Homo sapiens: one gene and its partner. The protein of the gene in region 1 purifies or fractionates together with the protein of each later gene. This does not show direct contact. Each region holds a gene or a part of one and is shown in the gene's direction. Other genes may lie near its edges.

Region 1 (2,850 bases):
GAGCAAGGGCAAAGGTAGCAGGAAGGAAAGCTCCTTCTTTCCTGGCCGCTAGCTTTGAAGAGACAGCTTCTCCAGTGTCATCTCAAGAAAGAGGGGACTGTGAGAACCTGGCCTGCTCACTTTATGGAGAGAAGCTAAGATAGGCGTGGGCCTTCCTGTGACACAGGCCTGAATGCAGGTAGCCTCAGAGAGCACTGGTCTCTGAGACTCCAGGAGGAGGAGACTCCAGGAGGCCTGCGTGCGTTCAGATGCTTGACTTTGCTTCCTTGGGCCCTGCCTCCTTTTCCCTCCCCACAGCCTTCCCCTGTGTCTCCTGAACCTCTTCTTGCTTTCATGACTGAGTAGTTCAGGCTCTGCCTTCCCCACAAAACCCTTCCAGGGCCACCCTAGTGAACTGCGGGGCCCTATCCCTGTGCCTCAGCTCAGTTTGTTGTCTTCTGTTCACCTGTGTGTGTCCCATTAGACTGAGAGGAACAAGTGCCGAAGGCAGGGACAAGGTGTGGAGTACAGATCCCCAATGATGGGATGGAGGCTGGGTAGAAGAGGGAGGCGTTTGGGTGACAGCCTTGTTCTTGGTAAGCTAGAAGTAGGATGTTTTCTCGCTGGGGGCAGTTTCTCTGACAGCAGGCACCGGAAGCTGTCTGAGGCGTCAGTTCCAAGAACCTCAGTTTCTTTCTTGCAAGGCCTCTGAGTCCATCAGAGACTGAGCCCAGTGCCCTGAGGTGGGCAAGGCCCCTGCCCAAGATAGGAGGGTGCTCAGGTTGTTGGGCCACAGCTGAATCCTCCGTGTCTGAAGCCTAGTGCCATCAAGGACTGGACCTGTGGGGCACAGGACAGCTTGCAGCTACACTCTATGCCAAGGGCTTCCCAGAGAAGGCCGACCCAGGTGGCCAAGGGCCAGGGCCCAATTGCCCACCCCCAGCCAAGTGCCCCAGAGAAGAAGGTGAAGACCCTGACCTGCGCTGGGTTGTAGTGGGGAAGGAAGAGGACAGTCGCACCCAGACACTGCTTCTGAGAAGCTCACAGGCCAGCAGGGGAAGCCCTTTCACAGCTGTTGCCACCAGTGCAGGAACGTGGTGCTGCCTCCTAAGAAGGGGCAGGGCAGGGGCTGGGGAGCACAGTGAAAGGAACCATGGACTGTGCCCTTGGCCTGGGGAAGGTGGTGGTGGCCCTGCAGGGGAAGCTGGAGGATGTTAGGAGAGAGCATGAAGGCTCAGGGGCTGAGCGCTGTAGCCTGCTGCCTTGGGAAACACTCTGGTAGGCTTCTACTTTTCAGAAGGCCTGGCTCTCTGCTTCCTGCTCTCCCCTTCCCAGAGACTCATGAGTTCTCACATTTAAGAAGTCCTCTTTCCGTCTATCCTTAGTGGAGGTGTGAGCAGAGACTGGATTGGCGTCCCCAGGAAGCTGTATAAGCCAGGTGCTAAGGAGCCCCGCTGCGTGTGTGTGAGAACCACCGGCCCCCCTAGTGGCCAGATGCCGGACAACCCTCCACACAGAAATCGTGGGGACCTGGACCACCCAAACTTGGCAGAGTACACAGGCTGCCCACCGCTAGCCATCACATGCTCCTTTCCACTCTAAGCCGTAGCCTCTTCTGTTAATAACACACAGAGAGCTCTGCCAAGCACCTGAGTAGGCCCTTGACACTTGTGTGCCCTGGGATGCCTCCTGGCGCGAATCAGGAGGGTCTGGAAGGACTCTGGCTATATTCTGCAAATGTGGCTCATGCCCCTTACCGTGGCTCGGCGTTGTGGTGCCTGAGGGACAGCCGGCCACCTGCCCAGTACTGGTCAGCTTTTCAACACTATTCCCTTTGACCTACTGGCCATCTTCCTCACAGCCCTCAGATATCAACGGGCACAAATAAGACCAACTCAATTTCCACTTGAATTTACAACCAAAAGCCTGCTGAGTTGATTACAGCTGGGCCAATACAGTACGAGGCAATAACAAATTAGTGTGGGTTGATTCTGGAATTGGAAAAGCTTTTGCTTGTATGGATACAGCAAATCCAGATGTCTCTGAACAAAGCAACAATTTAAAGCAACGACATTTTCTGTCCTTTAAGCACTTAAAATCAGGTGTGGTGTGTTTTCAAAGGCAGAAGTCTGCATTTTGAGCAAAAGGTGGCTTCCCAGCTCTAACAAGGTAACTGGTTAGCATGACATTAAAGCTTGGGCAAGGCTTCAAACTTAAGGTGGCTGGGCTTGCTGCTTGTCCAGTGGTTTGTATGTCCAGCGTCATCTGGCAATGTCATACCTGTTACCTCTTGACTACTTGTGAAGGTAGATGGGGGCAAGGAGTGTTCCTACTTCAGACAGAGAAGTGGGACCAGCACTACCACAGACAGCGCCACGGCCTCTGTGCATCGCCTCATCAGAGCTTCCACCCAGCTCCCTTTGCCGCTCAGTCTCACCCTCAACATCCACCAGCTTCCTCCCTCTCTGTCACTGTCTCCTTTTTCTCCATCATTCATTTCACTAAATCGCTTTCCAGATTCACAGACTAGAAAATGGAGGCTGCCTCCCCTTCACTGGCAGACCCGTACTCACTGCCCCTGTCCCCTTCACTGGCAGACCCGTGCTCACTGCCCCTGTCCCCTCACTGGCAGACCCGTGCTCACTGCCCCTGTCCCCTCACTGGCAGACCCGGGCTTATTGCCCCTATGGCCACAGCTGTTCCTTACACTTGGGCTCTGGCTCATGGCTCCTTTTGCCTGCCCCCGCCATCCTCCTCACCTGCCCCTCTTGTACCTTTAACCTCTCCCCGTCTCCTGGATCTTCCCCCAGGTATGCATCAAACAGCTCACTTCTCTCACATCATAAACATTCCCTCAACTCCAGTTTTGGC
Region 2 (3,500 bases), on another chromosome or scaffold:
CTTTTAATGGGAAAAAATCTAAAAGTCCATCATAGAAGAATGATTAGTAAATTGTGATGTACTTACACACTGGAATACTACCATACAGTTGATAAAATGAATGTAGTTGACCCACATCTGTCGACATGGATAAATCTAGAAAATATAGTGTTAAATTTTAAAATGTAAGTTATAGCATGCTATATACAGCATGGTGTCATTTATATAAAGTTCAAAACCTGAAAAACAATACTTTATAAGGTTATAGTTAGTAAATAATGTAATAAAAATATTTTAAAATGCTTGAGAGTAAACACCGAATTTGTGGTAATGAATACTTCTGAGGAGAGAGAGAAGGAACTAAGACCAGAAAGGGTCCCCACTGTATCTATAATGTTATATTGCTTTATTTTAAAAGATATAAAGCAAAATTGACATAATATTATGTTTTAATAAAGCTGGTAGTTTTTTTTGTATTTCATTTTATGGGCATATGTTTTAGTCTGTTCTTATCTAAGGTATATTTAAAATGCTTTCTCATTTAAAACCTCCAGTACTTTTTTTTTTTTTCCTTGAGACAGAGTCTCTCTGTCTCCCAGGCTGGAGTGCAGTGGCTCGGTCTTGTCTCACTGCAACCTCCGCCTCCCAGGTTCAAGTGATTCTCCTGCCTCAGCTTCCCAAGTAGCTGGGATTACAGGCACCTGTCACCACGCCCAGCTAATTTTTGTATTTTTAGTAGAGATGGGGTTTCGCCATGTTGGCCAGTCTGGTCTTGAACACCTGACCTCAAGTTATCCACCTGCCTCAGCCTCCCAAAGTGCTGGAATTATAGGCATGAGCCACCGTACCTGGCCAAAACCTCCAATACTTTTTAAACCATTATAGATCCCCCAAAATAATACTGGTATGTACAAACTCAACTTAGTGATAAAGAGATGGAAATATCTCCATCTATCACTCAGGACTGTCCATAAACAAGGGAGGCAAAGAGCCCAACCTGAACAAAATGGTGATGTTCATTAAGCTGGTCCTCAGCCTGCCTCTTGCTGGTATACTTGCCTGTCTTTAAAAACTTGAACTCTATCCTGTCAATCCAGGGAAGGATCTCATTTCATTCATTTTAATTATCATCACTTTAGTTATATGGTTGCTTTACTTTTCTTATGGACATTAGAAAATAAAAGTGAATAGACAAGATATATTTCATATGATATAAAGACATATTTCATATGCTATAAAGAGACAAGCCAGTACTTATCTGGAGCCTACCAATTAAGATAAATTCTTTTAAATATTTAGTCTTAAAAACAGAAATTATTTTAAAATTATGAATTGGCTAATTTTTTCCAAGTAAGTGCATTTTCATGTTCACCTGCTTTGTATTTAATATAAATTATTGTGTTGAGGCCCCATTAACAGCCACAAGTTTTTAGTCAACTTCAAAAATTTCTACTCAACTCTTATCTGTAATCCATTTAGATTTGTATCTCTTCCCATCAATCATGAATACATAAGGTAATATTTTATAGTTGGAAAGCATTGCTTAATATATTGAATCAATAAAAATGTTGATTTCATATATTTAATTTTTATAATCTTTACAGATTACAATACTGTGATGAGACTGTTCCTGTAACTTTTGATCCACACACAGAATTTCTTGGTCCTCAGAAGAAAACAGAACAAGTCCAAAGAGACATTGGATTTTGGTGTCCAAGGCATCTTAAGACTTCTGGGGGACAAGGATATAAGTTTCTGGGAATTGACCAGTGTGCGCCTCCATGCCCCAACATGTATTTTAAAAGTGATGAGCTAGAGTTTGCAAAAAGTTTTATTGGAACAGTTTCAATATTTTGTCTTTGTGCAACTCTGTTCACATTCCTTACTTTTTTAATTGATGTTAGAAGATTCAGATACCCAGAGAGACCAATTATATATTACTCTGTCTGTTACAGCATTGTATCTCTTATGTACTTCATTGGATTTTTGCTAGGCGATAGCACAGCCTGCAATAAGGCAGATGAGAAGCTAGAACTTGGTGACACTGTTGTCCTAGGCTCTCAAAATAAGGCTTGCACCGTTTTGTTCATGCTTTTGTATTTTTTCACAATGGCTGGCACTGTGTGGTGGGTGATTCTTACCATTACTTGGTTCTTAGCTGCAGGAAGAAAATGGAGTTGTGAAGCCATCGAGCAAAAAGCAGTGTGGTTTCATGCTGTTGCATGGGGAACACCAGGTTTCCTGACTGTTATGCTTCTTGCTATGAACAAAGTTGAAGGAGACAACATTAGTGGAGTTTGCTTTGTTGGCCTTTATGACCTGGATGCTTCTCGCTACTTTGTACTCTTGCCACTGTGCCTTTGTGTGTTTGTTGGGCTCTCTCTTCTTTTAGCTGGCATTATTTCCTTAAATCATGTTCGACAAGTCATACAACATGATGGCCGGAACCAAGAAAAACTAAAGAAATTTATGATTCGAATTGGAGTCTTCAGCGGCTTGTATCTTGTGCCATTAGTGACACTTCTCGGATGTTACGTCTATGAGCAAGTGAACAGGATTACCTGGGAGATAACTTGGGTCTCTGATCATTGTCGTCAGTACCATATCCCATGTCCTTATCAGGTAAAAGCTATCACTTGGATTATGTCTCTATTTACATTTAATGTAGAAAATGTTTCATGGAAATATACTTGTCATGGATGTAAAAGTTGATTTCAGGTGAGAAAATACAAGAGCCATAGGTAAGGATTTCCTATACATCAACTGAAACTGGGATGAATGTTTCATGACTTCCTTCCTCAAGCTTTAGCTTCAGTTGTATAGTAAAGCACTTCCTTTATTCTCTGAAAAATTAAATTGAGCTGCAAAGGCAGATTAATAGCAATAAAGAGCAGAGTCAGAAGAACAGACCTTGACATTGGGAGAAAAACAGAAGTCACTTTTGTCGCATTGGCAATTATTTTTAATTTTTTAGTTAGTAGTAAAAAATCTTATTTGGATATATTTAATTTGATCATATTATCTTATAGCTTTTTACATAGTATATACTTACAAAAACAGAATTTGCTTTTTGCCTGACTCATCTGTCATTTCTCAATTGAAAAAAACACAGTTGTAACAAAATATGCTTTATCTATTTCTGATTCTTATGATTAGTATAAGGGTGGTGTTTTTAAAATTAATAAAAGTAAATTTCTGAAAATATAAAATTTCTTAAAGCATTTTAGTTGAAGTTTTGTAAATAGAAATTTGGTTTTGTTTTAGTAGATTTTAGACATTATTCCTGACTCTGTGCGGTATTAACTGCATTGAACATGAGCACTGCCATCACAGTGTATCAAATTAAGCAATGGGAATGTCAAACTATTTCATATAATAGCTTATATTTCAGAAAGTTACTGCTTTATAACATTGTGGAATCTATTTTTTATGTTGGTATGTGGGGATACTAGTTTTACTTGCCTTATACGTTGTCCATAATCTATTATCCATAGTTTGTTTTTACTATATACTTAATAAGA

What was found. The genes of interacting proteins can lie anywhere in the genome.
Region 2: the proteins of CYB5D2 (region 1) and FZD6 purify together in Homo sapiens (co-immunoprecipitation; one large-scale study listed by IntAct). This does not show direct contact.

What each region holds. Positions count from the first base shown.
Region 1 is NC_000017.11:4,155,502-4,158,351, forward strand, and holds the end of CYB5D2 (neuferricin isoform 1 precursor), read left to right. Parts: intron 1-445; exon of another isoform or gene 446-692; intron 693-1,364; coding exon 1,365-1,581; 3' UTR 1,582-2,196; downstream 2,197-2,850. UniProt on the Homo sapiens protein: Heme-binding protein which promotes neuronal but not astrocyte differentiation.
Region 2 is NC_000008.11:103,322,898-103,326,397, forward strand, and holds part of FZD6 (frizzled-6 isoform a precursor), read left to right. Parts: intron 1-1,583; coding exon 1,584-2,601; intron 2,602-3,500. UniProt on the Homo sapiens protein: Receptor for Wnt proteins.